Linked DNA regions of Homo sapiens. The protein of the gene in region 4 purifies or fractionates together with the protein of the main gene of each other region. This does not show direct contact. Each region holds a gene or a part of one and is shown on either strand. Other genes may lie near its edges.

Region 1 (4,511 bases), about 34 Mb from region 4:
CATACTAAGATAAACATTATTTCCATTTTAGGACTTGGCAAGGGTAAATTTTCTTTTTTCTCTTTCTCTTATACATTGAATGTCACAAGCAATTAAATGAAATTATTTAGGTGAAATGGAAAAGTAAGAACATAAAAGCAGTGATGCACATATCAGATGCAACTGGTATTTCCATTATGAACCTCAAAGAAAGGAGCCTTGGTGTCTTTTTGAAGTAATTGTTCTTTGAGCTCTTCAACTGTCTTTTTTTGTGCTAAAACAATTTTATTTAATGAATATTTTGAAATCAAAGCTATCTCACCTTTATGTATCTGTGAAAAACTACATTCAGAATCTGCAAAACTTAAAAGAAGCCTTTTGAAATATTGGCATGTCTTTAAATCATTGTATATTCTGTATCTAGCACAGTATTGGGTATATGGTAAGCATTCTGTAGAATCAAATTGGTAAAAAGTCATCTAAGGGCATAGGAAAACTTTTGAGAAACAATTTGGCAATATGAATCAAATACCATAAAGCTGTTTACATTGCTTTGACTCAATAATTTTACTTCAGTGAATTTATGCTGAGTCTTAAATACTGAGGCTTATGTGCAAAGCTCTTTATTGCAATGTTATTTGCCATAACAAAATAATTAGTAACAATTAGTTTTCTTTTGTTGAATATTTAGATAAAGCAAATCTTGACACATTTACTGAAAGAAACATTATGCAGCCAATAAAATGATGCTTGTCAAAATTAGATGGCAATGTAGAACATTTATATGACATAATAAAACTACAAAAAGGCTGATATAAAATTTGTGTGTGGTAGAACTGCAATTATGTAAAAATTAAATACACATACCTAGAAAAAGTAGTGCTGGCATAGGTTGTGTTTGGATGGAACTACTATTGGTAATTTTCATCTCCTATTTTTTCAAAACTACTCATCTTTTAAAATGAAACGTTGAATTTAGCTAAACACCCAATCGTTATGCTTACCAGCTAGTTGTGTTGAATTGAACCTTTCTTTTCTCTCCCCAAACACTTTTCTATGTAAATACACTCATGGTGGTTAATTGGTTACAAATAAGAAACCAGTTGGCTGAGGTAAAACTTTAATTAATATAGACCTCAATAATTGAAGATTAACATATATTCACAGATCTAACACATCTAAGATACTTATGAAATAAAAAGCCCTAAATGAGTAGCAAGTTAGGTTTTTTTTTTTTTTTTTCCCCTAGTATGGCTAACTGGAGAGAATGGATGCCAGTTCTCCTTAGAAAGAAGACTTGGGGTGGCTCACGCCTGTAATCCCAGCACTTTAGGAGGCCGAGGTGAGTGGATTATTTGAGGTCAGGAGTTCGAGACCAGCCTGGCCAATATAGTGAAACCCTGCCTCTACTGAAAATACAAAAATTAGCCAGGCATGGTGGCAGGCACCTGTAGTCACAGCTACTTGGGAGGCTGAGGCAGGCGAATCGCTGGAACACAGGAGGCAGAGGTTGTAGTGAGCTGAGACGGTGCCACTGCATTCCAGCCTGGGTGATAAAGTGAGACTCCATCTCAAAAAAATAAAATAAAATAAATAAAATGAAATAAATTAAATTAAAATAAAATAAGAAAGAAAAAGAAAGAAGACTCAAAGTTACAGTTGAATGATTTTACACAGAATTTCAAGAGGAAAGTGCTGGAGCCTAGAGGAGAACTCACCAGAAGAAACTAGGGCACAGGAAAAGAAGGAAGCAAGAGGTTGTCAGAGATGAAACCCAGAGGGGCTTGGTATTTCATGAAAAGGATTAGCGGGAGTGTTTTTGTTTCTCCTTGCCCTGGTGGCAGATCCTTGGTATCTGAAATGTCAGAGAGCTCCTCTGTCCTCATGAACCCAAACACTGGTGTGGCAGTGATTTGGTGACTTCTTGAGGGCATTGCACTAGTATACCAGCATGTACAGGGTTGCTTGTCCTCCTTCTCTACCCAAACTGCAGTGGCAGGCACGATTCTTGGGCTGCATCCATTGAATGACTGAGTTCTGCCCAGGAAATCTCAGCCCTTGTGTTTCCACATTGCCAATTCCTCACAGGCATTCCCCAGCATCTGCTAAAATTGCAGCAGCCACATAGGGCTGGGTGACTCCAAGAGAGCTGCAGTATTCCTCTTGTTCCAGCCCTCAGGGAGTGCTGCTCCTAAAGGAAAAGAGTGCAGTGCACCAAGGGAGCACCCCTTTGCACAAAGGAACCCAGAGTGTGTGCTTTCTGGTGCTCAAGAGCTTCCCGCTTATGGACTGAGAGTAACTGCACTGCTTCTAGAGGAGATGTGGGTGTTGTGTTCAGCCCTATGGGGAAGAGTATGGTCCACCCCAGCAGTCAGGCAGCCTCAGTGCTGAGGCACAGGAATGGAGAGGGGGACTACTCATCTCCCTACCCCACCCACTGTTGTGGATACAGTTGTGGATACAGGCTGCTCTTCCTGAAGGTTACGGCATGTGTAATCTTGCTAGAATAAAGGACAGCCATTCTAGGGGTAGAATGGAGGACAGCCATTCTAGGGCTATTGGGAATTACTGCATCCCTGCTGGCTATGTGCCTACCAGGCTGGGGCTTGCAGGAAAGGTAAGGTGTCTCCCCTTCTGTCATGGAGTGGCAGTGTTCCTGTTGCATAGAACAGGGCTGAGGGAGGAGGTTCTGCACCACAGACATTTTAGTGGAGAGCCATGGGGCAACCATTTTTTTTTCTTTTTTTTTTTTTTTTAATGGCCATTGGCTAAATTGGAGCTTGGAGATAGGCAGTGGTGTCTGTACAATCTGAGTGTCCTGAGAGCTGGGCCAGGAATATGACAGGGAAGAAGACTGTGTTTCTGCCTGCCCAAGCCATGGAGCTGAGGTAGCTCCCTCTCCTCACTGGGGAGACCTCAGCACATTTCACCGGGAGCTTCCCTTGCCACCCCTCTTAGGGCTTGTTTGTGCCTGCCATTGGGGTATCCAAGGGTGGGCTTGGCAGTCCAACTCCACACAGCATTGTCTCTCACTTAGGTGCTGAGGGAGCTCAGGCCACTGTGCATTCCATAGATCAGCCCATTGCCTGGAACAATGGAGAACCTCTCCTGGTAAACAAAGATCAAGCATATACCTATCAGCTTCTGCTTCAGCTGGCTCTTACCAGTAAGTAAGTACTACCTGCTGGCCTGGAGATGGAACTGCACAACCTAATACACAATCTGCTGGCACAAGTGCACAGTGCTGGCTTCCTGAGACCTCTGCCATATTGGCACCATAGGAGACAATGAACTTGCTCACATGCCTAGTACAAAGGCTACCTACAACTAAGGAACTCATATAGAGTCATTGCCAGTGAAAGCACCCAGAACCAAAGCCAAAAGACTATTTTTCTCCCTTCAGGATGTAACTATAATGTATATACAACATACATTATAGTTACATCCTGAAGGGGAAAAAATCCTGTCCAAATGCAAATAAATTCAAAAATGAAAGAAGAGGTAGTTTATGCAGATAAGAAGAAACTCTGTGAAACTCTGGTGAAAAAACAGAGGGTTACAGGATCCCCAAAAGATTACACTAGCTCTCCCACAATGGATCTTAACCAAAATGAAATCTTTGAAATACCAGATAAAGAAGTCAAAATATTAATTTTAAAGAAGCTTAATGAGCTCTAAGAGAAAGTTGAAAACAAATACAAAGAAATCAGAAAAACAATTCAAGAAGAAATTTACTAAAGAGATAAATATTTAAAATAAAAAACCTGATAGGATGTCTGCAAATAAAAAATTCATTGAAGGAATTACAAAATGCTGTAAAAAGTTTTAACAATAGACTAGACCAAGTGAAAGAAAGAATATCAGAGCTTGAAGGCAGATTTTTGAATTAACCCAGTCAGACAAGAATAAAAAAATTTTAAAAAGGACAAAGCCTTCATGAAGTGGGGGATTATGTAAAACATCCAAACCTATATGTAATAGGTATTTCTGAGGGAAAATAAGAAGTAAAAGGATTGGAAAATATAATTTAGGAAATTCAGGAAAACTTCCCTAATTTTACTAGAAATTTAGACATCCAGTTATAAGAGGCTCAGAGAACTCCAGAAACATCCATTGCAAAATGAACTTCACAGAGATATATAGTCATCAGATTATCCAAAATCAGTGTGAAGAAAAAAATCCTAAAATCAGCAAGAGAAAAGCCTCTAATCACCTATAAGTGAAATCTCATAGTATTAGCAGCAGACTTCTCAGCAGAAACCTTAAAAACAGAAGAGACTGAGGTCCTATTTTCAGACTGCATAAAGAAAAACTGTCAACAATAAATTTTGTACCCTGAAAAACTAAGTTTCATAAATGAAGGGGAAATAAAGTCTTTCCCAGACAAGCAAATGCTAAGAAAATTTGTCACCTCTAGACCACCCCTATGAGAAATGCTCAAGGGAATTTTAAATATGGAAATGAAAAAACAATATTTGCCATCATAAAAACAAACATAAATACAATACAGGTGTTATAAAAGTACACAACTG
Region 2 (4,511 bases), on a different chromosome or scaffold from region 4:
ATAATCCCAAAAAAAACCCTTTATACTTATTATTTATTTATTTATTTTGAGACGGAGTCTAGCTCTGTCGCCAGGTTGGAGTGCAGTGGCGCGATCTCTACTTATTGCAGCCTCTGCCTCCCGGGTTCAAGCGGTTCTCCTGCCTCAGCCTCCTGAGTAGCTGGGATTACAGGCACGCGCCGCCACACCCACCTAATTTTTGTGTTTTTAGTAGAGAGAGGGTTTCACCATGTTGGCCTGGCTGGTCTTGATCTCCTGACCTCGTGATCCACCCACCTCGGCCTCCCAAAGTGCTGGGATTACAGGCGTGAGCCACCGTGCCGGCCAGTAATTTTTATTTTCTCTTCCTTGAATTATAGATCTAACATTGAAATTTGTTTGGAAATGCTTAATTTATAATACACTTCAAAACTAAACTGACAAATTATTTAAAATAAAAAATTTGAAGTTTTAAATAATTGATATTCTGATTATTAAAAATAGATTACATTTTATATACTAAATTTTAAATCACTAAATTATCACATTTATAAAAGAATATAATTTAAAGAAATAAGTAACCAAATAAATATTGCTCTAAATACTTAATAAGCTATTTTTTCCAGAATAAAAATATTTATATGAAACTTACATTTGCGAAGTTCTTAATTGCAATATGCTAATCTTCTGCATTGCAATGTATTTAATAGTTAGATAATTCAAATGATGTAAAATTTCAAAACCTGAAAAGTTTCTAAGAATAATATAAATTAGTGGCTACTCTATGATAATTATCAAAATAGTGCTTAATGTTGAAGATGTGCCAAGTTCAGCCGTGCCATTTTTCTGAGCAGTTTTGAACTTTAGACATTGATTTCATGTAAGGTTAAATTGCACATTAATACTTGTTTATAAACATACAAAGGTAAAGTGTTGCCCATATATGTGCATTTCTCTTACCAATATTCAAAGGGCAGATTTATTTTTAAAAGTTATTTTTCAAAATGGAATCAGCATATTTCAACCAAAATGTAAACTCTGGTAACACGTATTTTTCCCTCTGCTTATATTATGGACAATAACTTGAATGTCTTTGGCCAAAAAAAAGCTTTAAAATTTTTCCCACTTTCAGGGCATTTGTGATTGTTATTAAATAGTGCAAAATTATATGATACTAGTTTAATTTTATTATACAAAGAAGGAAATTGAGAATTCAGAATCATAGAGCTTAAAGCATATTTTTCTTGAGGACATCTGTAGAATTACCAAAGGGCTAAACTATGCAACTGAGTATAGATACTATTGATTACCATAATCTAGAGTTTCTATTTTCAGCTTAAACTGTAAAGACAGATGTCCTGATTCCTAGTAATTAAAACTGTATGCACATTTCAGCTATGCATATACCTATCTTTTGTCTTTGAAAATTCAGTGTAGAATATTCTAACTTGTCTTACATATTAATATTACATTGTAATTAATATTTTGCAGTGCCATTCAGAAGTCCTTATTGTCTCTGAGGATAGAATATTTATTTTGGCTTTTTTATACCCACAGTTAATATTGGGGCTAGAAGTACTTAATTCCATTTACTTCTGAATGGCAACAATGTTCTCTGCTTCCTGATGGCCGGTTCTCTTCTGTTGAAAGCATAAAACTCCAATGGAATAAAATTGAGTGGCCAAAAAACCTTATATAGAGAATCATAGGGACTGGAATACATTTGCCCTTTTAGGAAGTATTTCATGAATTAATGCCTCAATTTTATTCAAACTATATATAAATAATTGTATAGTTCTTGAAAAATTTTCTACAAATGGGCATACTGTCTCAAGAAAGATACATTGCATATCTGATACTCTAAAGTAATTGGAGTGACAGATTTATAAGCTTTGGGTATCTTCATTTTGGGGTTGCAGATATTAATTTGGCAAGTTTAATATAACACTAGCTACAGACTGAGATGTCAGAAATAGAGAATAGTCTATAAATACTTGAACTTTTTAAAAGTTCAGAATTAAGTTGTGAAAATAGTTGAATTTAAAGATATAATCTGAAATTCTTATGAAGCATTTACTTGCACATGCATTTGAAGTGAAGATAGTCTTCTAGAATCCTGAATGTGATTTTCTAGTGTATTATTTTAAAAACTGGCTGTCCTTGTGGATGTACTATTCTCAGGAAGATATAAATGATATTGCACTAAATTTGTCTTCATATTAAAGTTAATTTTTGTAAATAAGTTATGATTTATAGACAATGAAATCTTAGGCAAATGCCAGCAGAGTGTCTTTGAAATTCATAATGTTATCTGTTATGAAAAACATTCTTTGACCTGGTTACATTTTAACCAGTAGTATTTCAAAATAAAATTAATGATCATGTATCAGTAAAATGTATTGTATAAAATAGCAGGGAAAGGTAATTGCAAATTTTTCAAGGCTATGTCAATTTTAATAATATTTTGGAAAATTATAAAATTTAGAAAAGCTTTTAAATAGCGGCTTTCCATTTCTTAGAGACATTTACATCTACAATATGATAAGTAAGCATAATTAAGATCTTGTTGGATGAATGTTGAAACCATATTTATAACCATCATTTCATTTTGTCAGGTATGTTTTACTAGGTCATTGCATAATGCATTAAAAATGGAAGAATGACAGAAAAATGAGTTCACCAAAAAAGAGAAAATCTTGTTTATTTTCAGATCCAAAACTTTTTCTTGCTTATGATATCGAGGTTGAAATTCTAGGTGAAGCACATCTCTATTTGTGGCTAAATCTACTTTATTATAAAGCCAAGGTAAATTCATTTTATCATAAGAGGACCAGGTTGAACTGATAAGTGAAAGCAGATTGTGGGTAGAGGACCTGGCACTGTTATTTGCATTTATCTTCACGATAAATAATGTTGAGTAGACAATTCCCAGAATTTGAATAATGGTCTATAACCTCTAACTGCCAGACATTTGCCATACCAGTTTTATGGTGGTCACAAGTGTTTTGATACTAACGTATTTTCCTTTACTTGGAGGAGGGAGGATAAATGGAATAACCATAAATCAAGTAATAAATGGCTAGGTTAGAACTTCTGTTTACTTTTTTCAACAGCTTTATTCATTTTGCTTGCTTAAAGTGTAATGCTTGTTTTGTGATAAACGGTGCCTACATTTTTGCTTTGTTTTTTAAGCTACAGTGTCACATCTTTTGCTTTCACAAACCTATACTAACTTAAATATACATATGGTTGTGGAATGCTTATGATGTATCCTGTTTTGTGGGGATACAAGATGATTAAGGCAAGTCCCTGTCCTCAGACAGTTTACAATCTAGCCCTCTGCCAATACAGTTCCTCAACATATTCACCAAAGTTACTTTTAAAAAATTGGTAAATCTGTATTTTGAACATTTGGAACAAACGAAATTAAAACTTGTACTTTCATTCTTCTTGTGATAACCTTAACTAGAAGAACTACATTGCATCTTATATATTTTTTTCTAGACTATTTCCGTTAATGTCAGTGTGATGAAGTTGGTCTTTTCCTAAAAGTATTAAAACAAAGCAGTAACTTACTTTTTCTAGGGTATGCAATTTAGTCTATTTTGCTTTGTATTAGTAAATCTCCTTCTCAAATTTAGGTAGAAGATAGTTTGCTATAGAGAGCACCCTTGCACAGTTCTTTCAGGGGAAAGAATTCTCATGCCTTTCATGGAAGATCCACATGAGAAAGGAGTTGATGGATTGAAGTCTTATTTATGGAATCTTTAGGTAAAGTCATTTTCAAAAATGAGATTTCCATTACATGCCCATTGCTGGGGTTTCATTTGGAAAATTTGTTTACTCTTCCCTGGGGATTCCGTATGTTGGTTGATTTATAAATCATATTTACAATCCAATTAAATAGAGTAATTTAGCATGTTTGCTCCCACTATATTTATAGTGTAGATTTGGTAGTCTCTACTCAGCCTAACTAGCTTTTCAGATTAATTACATGCCCTTCACTGAAAACATTAAACCGATTTGGGACGTTTAAGTCATGTACTCTTTTACTGGAAAGAATAAACAAACATCAATGCTACCTGTAGTTGTTTTCCTTTGCGGTGGAAAATTTTACTTTTTCAGTGATTGCTTCATAAATAACAATTACTTGACCCAGTAGAGATTTATATCTTTTACTAATGTTATGTGTCAAAATTAATAGTGAGAAAATTGATGTGTTTATTGAGTCACTAAAATGAATAAATAATGAAGGTGGCAGGAGGCAGGTAAATTTTAAAGCACATTTACTTGCTCCTTTTTTTTCTAAATTTATAAATCTGAGCTTCAAAAGTAAAAAGTAAAATTAAGACAAAACTCTCCAGACCCCCAAGCTAGGGTCATAATTTAACCTGAGAGAAAACTAAGGGCTATTTTTATACTGTTTAAGTTTAAAGATTTATGTTTGTTTTTTTTTTTAAGCAAACGTTTTAGCCTCTCCTTGCCTTTTTCTTTTTTCTTTCTTTCTTTCTTCCTTTTTTTTTTTTTTTTTT
Region 3 (4,511 bases), about 100 Mb from region 4:
CTATAAATGCTTATACCAAGAATTTCTCATTTACATACTCAAGAATTTTTAAAAAGCTTCCACATCTTTATACTCAAAATGCTTTAATTGGTGAAATTCTGATGTTAGAAAAGAATAACATTGTACTGTTCTAGTTCTTAGTCTCAATTTTTTTCTTTAAGCTTTGATTTAACATTACTATTAAATCATTCAGTTAGTTTTGAGGATAAACCACAAAGAAACAAAGATTAGGAAACTATCATGAAGAAGCAAAACTTTACATTTTCCTCTCCCTCTTTAGTCCAAGTGGCCTTACCAAGACTCGAAGAGATGACGACCTCACATGCCTGTTGATCTCATCCACCCACTGGTGACAGATGGAACTTGGAGAGATGATCAGAGTTGCTCTTGTTGACACTGGTTCCATTGCAACAAGGCAGTGGGGGCAGTAAAAAGGCTTGATCTTCAGATTTTTCTCATCATAATTCACACACTTTGCATGTTGCCACAGGTGACACTTCAGGCATTGAACACGAGGCTTACGATCTATCTGATCAAGTTCACCACATATACACTCAAAGCGGTAATCAGAGGTGTTAAAGGGACTCATGGTATTAGAAGGTGGTACATCACTATCAGCATGATTTAGAGATTCAGCACAGTCCTCTGTTTCATGTTCTTGGTTGAATTCAGAGATACATGTACTTTTAGACATAGCAACATCAGTTATTCCAGAGTCGCTAGTAGCTGGACAGTGACCTTGTGAATCGGGATTGATAAATGGTTGACTTTTTCCTTTTTTTGTGGATGGAACAAGCTTTTTCCTCAATTTACTGCGATTTCTCCTGGACTTATAATAATAATAGTAAGGATCATCATCATCATCAGAGGTGTCTGATGGCAAGTATTCAGAATCTGTGTCCTTGTTCCCTGATTTTCTAGTTTCTTTCTGAATTTTCCTTGGACTCCCTACTGCCTATGAAAAAAATATTTAATTAATTGATTGCAACTAGTTGCATTTCTGAAATTAAACTCCTGACTTTATGTAAGTACTTCATATAATTATGTAGCAGCCAGTCTTTGCTACCCTTTTCCCTGAGGAGAATCACTCCTGATAAGTGGCTTCCAATCTGCCCTCTGTAAGGACCCTCACTTCATCTCAAAACAAAAGGAAGGCTCTACAAGTGTCAGATTTGGAGAGATGAAAAATTAGAAAGATAAAGGAAGCTACTGATATTTTGTTATTTACCTACTATGATTTAGTCTACCTAAATCAATACAAGACTAGTACTTTTCGAGTACATAAATATACAAATCAGGGCAACTACAAAAACACCAAGTACTAAAATATAGCATCCAAAGAAAGTAAAAGATAATCCACTGGTTACTGCAATTAGCAAATTGATTCCTTCTTTCCTTCCCTTTTCTACATATGTCCTCTCTTACAATTACTTATTAAATGCCAATTCTGTGCCAGTAGTTGTGTTAGATGCTAGGGACACAAATATGAACAATATTTGGCCCCCGGTTTCAAAGGGGTCTACTGGAAAAGTGAGAACAGTAAAAAGTAAAATGATGCTATGGGAATACCTAAGAGGGTTGTACAACATAGTGGGAGTATGATAGGCAGGTAGTTAATAGGGACAGCTTCCTCCAAGGCATATCAGGGCTGAGGTCGAACAGGGGAGTTAAGACACAACATGTAATCAATGGCATTAACTGAGGGAAATCTTCTAGTTTTGGTGGTAGCAGGATTACCAAAAGCACAGTTCACTGCTGTCTTCAGTGCTACCCAAGGATAATATAGACTCCCTACTCCAGAAAATAAATTTTTTGTCTTTTTCTTGGTGGCCGAGCTGGTAGCTCCACATTTTGACTTGTTGTCATTAATCTTTATTTATGATTGCAAATATTATAACTATTTTCCTAAAAGCAAATTGAAATTACTGGCCCAACAGAAGCAGTTTTCTAACAAAATGCAGAAATTGTATAAGATAATAATATAAAGAAAATGAGAATTTAGAAGTTCCAGACCTGCCTGGGCAACATAGTGAGAACCCCGTCTCTACAAAAAAACAAGAAAAATTAACCAGGCATGGTGACATGAGCCTGTACTCACAACTACTTGGGAAGCTAAGGCAAGATGACAGCTTGGCACAGGAGTTCAAGGCTGCAGCTAGCTATGACCACTGCATTCTAGCCAGGGCAATAGATGCCCTGTGTCTTAAAAAAATAATAAAAATAAATAATACAGAAGATGCTTTATACTCTATAATACGCTTAGCCAACTAGTTTTTTAATTCACTCAATAAATATCTGAGTATTTGTTACGTGCCAAGCATTATTCTCTAGGTTTAATGATAGCCAAAGTAAAGTTACTCTCACGGAGTTTATATCCACAAAGTAGAAAGTAGAAGTTACAGATATAAGTACTTTTCCTATTTTTTTATCTTCAGATCGTAAGAGTTTCAGTTTCAAGGTGGGATCTGTCAATGTACTCAGTAAGGTATCACATACGTGTACTTAATATAGAGCTGAACTTAAGCTCTGTTACCTGCTTTTTTGTTTTATCACATATATCCTCTTCCTTGTAATTCTTTCCCAATGTAAAAGTCCCAGAAAAACCATGGCCTTTGATCTGTTTCACGAGACCTTCAAAAATTAAACATTTCAGCATCCGTTTCAAAAGACTCCTGTTCCGTTGAACATCGTATCTATATATAGAACTGACATACTTATAGATGGAAAGGATGGACACTCCTTTTTTTCCATTCATTTCTTTCACAGCTGTCAGTATCATCACACGTGTAGCTAAATGTAAAAGGATATGCTAAATCAGTCAAAATAATTAAAATGAAAAGAAAGTAAAACTTGGTTAATCTTAATCTGCATGAGGACTGAGTTAAGAAAGAAATAAATCAAAGATTTATTACAGCAGAGTGCCATTTTGAAAAAATATGTAATAAAAATGTATCTCAGCATATTAAGAAACAAATTACTGTAATAAAAATAATCAAAGGAAGAATTACTCATATTGAATTGTTAATACTATAAAACAATCATTCAAAATTATAAAAGAAAACTCTCACAATTATTTAAGTATACGCTACCATTAGTATGCGAAACATTCATTTCCTAAAAGATAAATAAAGCCTGGTTTAAACTGTAAGCTAAAGAGATTTAAATATAACAGACTGAGCAAGAACTACCTGGGCCAAGTCAAACAAAATAATACATCTTTACTTTTGTTAAGATATTATGACTTGTAATTGAATTCATTTATCAAAAGCATATATAACTGTAAAAACAATTGTTTATAACAATTACAAGATATCTCTAAGGATTGCAAGAACTCTAGCAAAGATCACTATAAGAAGGTATTTCCTTTAAGAGATGTCTTACTTACGAGGGCATTGAACTTTTTCTTTTGGTTCAAATTCGATATTCTGGATTTCTGTCTTTTTCAGTTTTCCTCCAAAATAATGTGACGGAATAAAATAATTCACCACTTTTCCCTGATACAAACAACAGTCAGTAGTTACACAGTGTTTTGCTTTCAGTATTCTGAATTGCTTATTGAAATTAACTTTCCTTCTTTATGGAAATGCAAAACAGTTCTAAAAAAATTGCAAGAGAAAGGGCCAAATAGCTGTAGATACATACACAGTTTTATTTCTGAGTTTACAGCTAGCTATCACTTAAAAAATTGTGCATATTATCTTAAATTACCTAAATGTTATGTGTGGAACCTCTGAAATTAACTTTTAAAGGTATATTTAAATATAAAATTAACCCATTGAATTTATAATAATATGAAAATAACTTGGAATTAAAATAGTAATGAGTAGGAAATCTCAGAAAGAAGTTACTGATAGTTAAGTCAATATATTCCAAGTCATTTGTCTACAAAAAAAACATTTTTTTTTTAAATTTTCTACTCAAATCTGAAAGGCTAATTCTGCAAACTTGACCCTACTGAAAGATAACATAATGCTAAAGCTGTGAGACTGGTGGGTCCTAGAGGTAATTAATTATAATTATACCTTTAACTACTGACTTCATTTCAGCAAGATTTAATGTAAGGGCTGATTTCAGATTTCATTACTAGAAAATATGAGCTATATACTATATTTGCCTTAGTGGACTTTGTTTCTGTAACTCTAAAATTTATATTTTTAAACACAATTATGTATTTTGGGACAAGGACTTGAAGTTTGTTTCATTTAGCAATCTATTTACTAAGCTACTTGTTCTTTAACAAAGTTCTAATTATTTGGTTCTAAGATTTATATATATGAGATTTGTATAACATTTTTAAATAGCTCTTAAAAATATTTAGTAGTAATATGGAGACTTTATTAGTGACAAAACATTTGAGGAGTCAACAGTACTTTTGTAAAGGAGTTTCTCTGCCAACTAGAAGAAAGTTCAGTAAGTGATCACAAATTCTCTTCCTAGTTGGCCAACATTACTTCAAAAATAAACCTTCTGGGTCACAAACACCCCATTCTCTCTGCCCACTTGAAGTTAAC
Region 4 (5,522 bases):
TTAAATGTTTATTAATAATTATCCCCACTGGACAGCCTGAGGGGTAAAGTAGATGCTCTATTAGTTCTTCTCTATCTTGTAAGTTCTTTTTTTCTAGAATAATAAATATAGGATTCAATGAAAGATGAGGCACGATTCATAGTTTCCTTTCCTTTTTACTCTCCTTGGTTTTTTTGAGTTAATGGGCTTTTCTATTGCCACAAAAAGTCATTACTAATCATGCCGACTTAAAAACGTGGATCTTGAGAGTACAGCTTCACATCAGAGCCTCTGGCAGCATGGACAGCGGTGACACTTTAAAACAGTGTCCAGGAGAGGGTGAGCCCAGGCAAAGCTTATACAAAGAAGCCTGCAGTAGACAATATAAACCAAACAGCATAAAAAATGCCATACGCTATCGCTTCCAAATAAAAGCTAAATATTACAGAAACCTCACAGTGTTGGAAAAAGCAAGTTTAATTTAAAATATAGTCACTCCTTCCCTATCAGGGTGAGCCATTTTTTGTCTGAATTTCCTCCATGTCTCAGTGCTGCCTGGCAGGGCCTATGGGAGAGTTCATCTCAAAAGAGGTCAACAGCAAATGCTACAGATCTGTGTGGGAAATGTGGCTCATCAACATTGCTAAAGCTATAACCCTCATTCTTTAGCCTGGCTTTCCCCACTTCCCACTCCTCCCCGAACGCCCTTCCACATCTACTCCCTTCAAGTGACAACTGTACTTCTACCTGAATTCAAACATTAATATGATATACTCAGTCAAAAGATGAGCATTCATAGTGACAGGTTGAGTGAGGCTCACTGCAGTGACCACAGCAACAAAAGTTAGGGTTTGCATTCACTTTCACCAGCAAATCTAAGTGAAGAACTAAGAATGAAGTGGTGCCTGATGGGGACAAGGGTTTTTATCTGGGCAATTTCATTCTGTTTAGAAACTGACCCAATTTAAAAAGGAAGATGTATTTTACTAGCACTGGGGGAAAGGACGGGGCACTCTTGTTTTTTTCTCTGATGGACTGAGTATGGGGGGTAAAGCAACAGTAGGGATTATCAGATTTGGGAGGAAACAGGTCAAGGCCATTGGTAATCAACTCTTCAGATATGTACGAGGTGGACTCCTAAGCAGTTAACATACCCTAGAGAACCAAAAGCTCCCAAACCCTGTGAACATGAATGTTCTAGCTCTCCAGGAGCAAGAAAGAAGCTGCAGGCTAAGAAGCTGCATGCCGCACTGAAGTGAGAACGGGTGACAGGCCTTCAATAAGCCCTGGAGCATCAGCTATCTCTGCCCACCCTCAATTGAGTTCTGAGAAAACCTAAGAATCAATTTAAACCAAACCATGTGCTTGCCCTAGACCTGAACCAGGGATCTGCTACAGAACTGAGATAGCCAGGAGTGTCCTTTGGCTCAGCATGGAACATGTGCTAGTCTATTGCTTCTTTATATGACCTGCCCCTTCTTTAGAATGAAGGGGTATTCATGCCAGTCTCAGAAGTATGGAATGATTATATGACAGCAGCAAGTAGGGAGGGTATGACATATGAAAACCATCCCACTTTGCATGGGGAAATTTGTTCCATGCATCTCACTCCACTCTTCAGCTGCTATCCCCAAAAAAGGAAGTTTGTTTTAAACCCTTGAAGGTTACTTCCTTTGTGGGAATAAACCCTTTAGACTTCATCTCCCATCTTGGAGCCAATCCCATCCAGCAAACTGCTAGCCCAGGGCCCCTCCTCACGTGCTCTGTCCAGGACTGCTCACATCCGGAGGGTTCTTCTGGTGCTGCAAGGAGGTCCTGATTAGCAGGGGAATCACATCATGGAGAGAAAACATGGCTGCTCTCCTGTGTGGATATGATTGATTTACCCCCCCGCCCCGCTTTCCTCCACCCAGATCCCTCTATATTCAGAAGCAACTGATGAAAGGATCTTCATAGAAGTTACTTCTTTTGTTTTTAGGAAAGGAGGGAACTCCCAAACTCATTCAAAAGAAAGAGACTATAAAATTTACGACAGGACACGAATCACCTGGCACCTTCTACTCTAGACCCAGCAAGGCAAACCTAGTAATCTGTTCCTGCAGTAGCCTTATTTCCTATAAGAGGAAAGATGTATGGACACCAATACACAAAAGCCAGTCTTTGATACATGCCTCCCATTCAGGAAAATGTCTGTGGTCTGCCTTCATCATTGTTGCTGGACTGCACCTGAGCTTGGAGATGGGTTTCTGAGATTCTTGCATTGCCCTGCACTGTTCTTTGAGTGTAAAAAAGGATGTAGGCCTGGGTTTTGCACACTTCCTCGACACTGCATACATTCAGCTTTGAGTCATTGCAGTGGACCCAAAAACCTAGGAAACCAAAGGAGAAAAAGAGAGAAAATGACTACCCAATTCATATTTTAGTCAGCAGGCAAAATCAGGAGATGAAGAAAGGGACAGAGAAGTTCTGAATAGAGCCAACCCTCGATTATTGGTGGGGAAGGGACAGGTAAATGAAACTGACAGACTTTTGTGTATCCACTGGCTTTAACCCCACCAAGCCCCACGGTACTGCTTATCGACTGACTGCAATTTTTTTTTTTTTTTTTTTTTTGAGACAGAGTCTCGCTCTGTCACCCAGGCTGGAGTGCAGTGGTGGGTTCTCGGCTCACTGCAAGCTCCACCTCCCAGGTTCACGCCATTCTCCTGCCATTCTCCTGCCTCAGCCTCTCGAGTAGCTGGGACTACAGGTGCCCACCACCACGCCCGGCTAATTCTTTGTATTTTTAGTAGAGACGGGGCTTCACCATGTTAGCCAGGATGGTCTCGACCTCCTGACCTCGTGATCCGCCCGCCTCGGCCTCCCAGAGTGCTGGGATTACAGGCGTGAGCCACCGCACCCAGCCGACTGACTGCAATTTTTATCTTTGTTTTCTTCAGGCTTTTTCATTGTCCACTAGGGCCTTCTAGAAAGAGCTGCGATACTGCAGGCTAAGCAATGGGGAGATGAGGAGGAAGAGGAGGAGGAGAGGAGAAATGGAAATAGAGGGGAGTGATGAAGGAAAATTTAGAAGGAACAAAAAAGTATTTATTCACAAGCTCTGGCTGCCCCAAGGGCTGTGCAGTTCAAGAAGAGTGAACAGCTGAAAACACATCTGCAGCCCATCAGTCAGTGCAGTAGCTGGAAGACTCCACTCTGGAGGATGAGGACCTAAAGCTCCTTTGGAGGGGCCCTTGCATCCCCACACTTCCCATGGCAGGGGAAGTAGTAAGAACATAGTAAGTGCTCAGTAAATGTTCTCGGCTTTATTATAAGCTGCGGCTAGTGAGATTCATACAATATCTCCTTGAGGTTACACAGGTTCTACTGTTTCTGCATAACCAAGAAGGAAACTGGGGTGTGCAGAAGTAGCATTACCACAAAACAGTAATATTATCAATAACCAATACTTTTGATAATACTACAATATCCTCTAACACTGACTGAATAAGTACTATGTGGTAGGCAACTGCTCTTCTTATTTATTTATTTGAGTCAGGATCTCACTCTGTTGCCCAGGCTAGAATGCAGTGGTGAAATCATAGCTCATTGCAACTTCAAACTCCTGGGCTTGAGCAATTCTCCCACCTCAGCCTCCCAAGTAGCTAGGATCACAGGTGCACACCATTACACCTGGATAATTTTTAAATTTTTTGTAGAGATGCAGTCTCGCTATGTTGCCCAGGCTAGTCTTGAACCCTCGGCCTCAAGCAATCCTCCCGCCTCTGCCTCCCAAAGTGTTGGAATTACAGGTGTGAGCCATTGCACAGGGCCTAGGTCCTGTTCTAAGCACTTTTACATGTCAGTTCCTTTTAATTCTTAGAACAACCATATGTTGTTACTTAGTAATATACCCAAAATTTGAATCCAACTTTCATAATTCTTTTTATTTTTTTTGAGATAAGAGTCTTGCTCTGTCACCCAGGCTGAAGTGCAGTGGCATAATCTTGGCTCACTGCAACCTCTGCCTCCCAGGTTCAAGCGATTCTCCTGCCTCAGCCTCTTGAGTACCTGGGATTACCAGTGCCCACCACCACGCCCGGCTAATTTTTGTACTATTTTAGTAGAGACGGGGTTTAACCATGTTGGCCAGGCTGGTCTCGAACTCCTGACCTCAGGTGATCCACCCACCGCGGCCTCCCAAAGCGCTAGGATTACAGGTGTGAGCCACGGCGCCCAACCCAATTTTCACAATTCTTTCCACTGGATTTTTGATGTATGTAATTTCCCTCTAGGTAATCCATGGGATGGAAATAAAAGGAAAACAATAAAATGTGGACAAATCAACCCCTTTCCGTGTCCCCCACCCCACAGAGTAAAGCGCACGCACCTCCCTCTGTGTTGTAGCAATAGGCTGTGTAGTGTCCTGAGCCAAACCCTTTCCCGTGATGCATGACCACTGCGGAGAGATCATAGGCAAAGGTCTCTTTGTCAAGAGAGGAGAGCATGTCCCTGCAGCAGTAAGGTTCCATGGTTAATACCTGGTCAAAGACGACATGGACCCCAATCTTCTCTCGATGATTACGGCCAGACCACCTAGAACATGGATATAAGCTTGTTACTAGTAAAAACTGGCATATATAATCGTAGGTAGAGGTAGGTATTAATAAAACAGGAAACTGAGAAAATTTAACCTTCTGGTTTTGGTTTTCCCATCAATAAAATGGTGGTAATCAATGTTCACACTTATTTATTTATTTATTTATTTATTTATTTATTTATTTTCAGACAGGGTCTCACTCTGTTGCCCAGGCTGCAGTGCAGTGGTGTGATTGATAAAGGCTCACTGCAGCTTCAACCTTCCCGAGCTCAGGTGATCCCCCCACCTCAGCCTCCCGAGTAGGTGGGACTATAGGTGCACACCACCATGCCTGGCTAATTTTTGCATTTTTTGTAGAGACAGGGTTTTAACCATGTTGCCGAGGCTGGTCTCAAACTCCTGAGCTCAAGCAATCTGCCTACCTTGGCCTCCCAAAGTTCTAGGGTTACAGTCATGAGCCACTGCGCCTGGCCCATTTATTTGCTGTTAATGTTCCATGAAGTACTCTAAACCTAGAGATCCCTAAACAAGCAATTCAAGCAACAGTCTTTTTGTAGTTTCCTGCCTGTGCTTCTTTTGCAGATTATTTTATACTTCATCCTGAAGATGAATCTACATAAGTCCAAGCCAGGCTAGAAAATCTTTAAGCACAGACACCCAGTGCAGGCTGGATAATTAATTACACAGGAGCATGAGAGCAAAAGCCCAGTCCTGCTGGGCTCCCACATCAATTTGCCTTAGTGGATGTGAACAGTTTAATCTCCATGGAAAACACGAGGTCTCAAGTGAACAGGCTTCCCCTCCCAACACCATAGAAGACATTTGCCCTCACCAAAGCCTTTGGAGCAGCTATTCCCACAGCTCTCACCCAGCTGGGACTCCCACAGCAAGCTCACCTGAATCTTTTAAGGTGCAGCCGGAGAACCTGAGGTAGTCTGTAGATCATTAACTGCTTTCTAGCTTC

Evidence for each region. The genes of interacting proteins can lie anywhere in the genome.
Region 1: the proteins of USP49 (region 4) and IMPG1 purify together in Homo sapiens (affinity purification with mass spectrometry; one large-scale study listed by BioGRID and IntAct). This does not show direct contact.
Region 2: the proteins of USP49 (region 4) and PAX9 purify together in Homo sapiens (affinity purification with western blotting; one study listed by BioGRID). This does not show direct contact.
Region 3: the proteins of USP49 (region 4) and SHPRH purify together in Homo sapiens (affinity purification with mass spectrometry; one large-scale study listed by BioGRID and IntAct). This does not show direct contact.

What each region holds. Positions count from the first base shown.
Region 1 is NC_000006.12:76,061,652-76,066,162, forward strand, and holds part of IMPG1 (interphotoreceptor matrix proteoglycan 1 isoform 1 precursor), read right to left. Parts: intron 1-4,511. UniProt on the Homo sapiens protein: Chondroitin sulfate-, heparin- and hyaluronan-binding protein. May serve to form a basic macromolecular scaffold comprising the insoluble interphotoreceptor matrix.
Region 2 is NC_000014.9:36,668,360-36,672,870, forward strand, and holds part of PAX9 (paired box protein Pax-9), read left to right. Parts: intron 1-4,511. UniProt on the Homo sapiens protein: Transcription factor required for normal development of thymus, parathyroid glands, ultimobranchial bodies, teeth, skeletal elements of skull and larynx as well as distal limbs.
Region 3 is NC_000006.12:145,942,848-145,947,358, forward strand, and holds part of SHPRH (E3 ubiquitin-protein ligase SHPRH), read right to left. Parts: intron 3,495-4,511; coding exon 3,386-3,494; intron 2,791-3,385; coding exon 2,534-2,790; intron 956-2,533; coding exon 296-955; intron 1-295. UniProt on the Homo sapiens protein: E3 ubiquitin-protein ligase involved in DNA repair.
Region 4 is NC_000006.12:41,794,376-41,799,897, forward strand, and holds part of USP49 (ubiquitin carboxyl-terminal hydrolase 49), read right to left. Parts: coding exon 5,455-5,522; intron 4,555-5,454; coding exon 4,349-4,554; coding exon of another isoform or gene 4,302-4,348; exon of another isoform or gene 3,270-4,301; intron 2,349-3,269; coding exon 2,158-2,348; 3' UTR 1-2,157. UniProt on the Homo sapiens protein: Deubiquitinase that plays a role in several cellular processes including transcriptional regulation, cell cycle progression or innate immunity.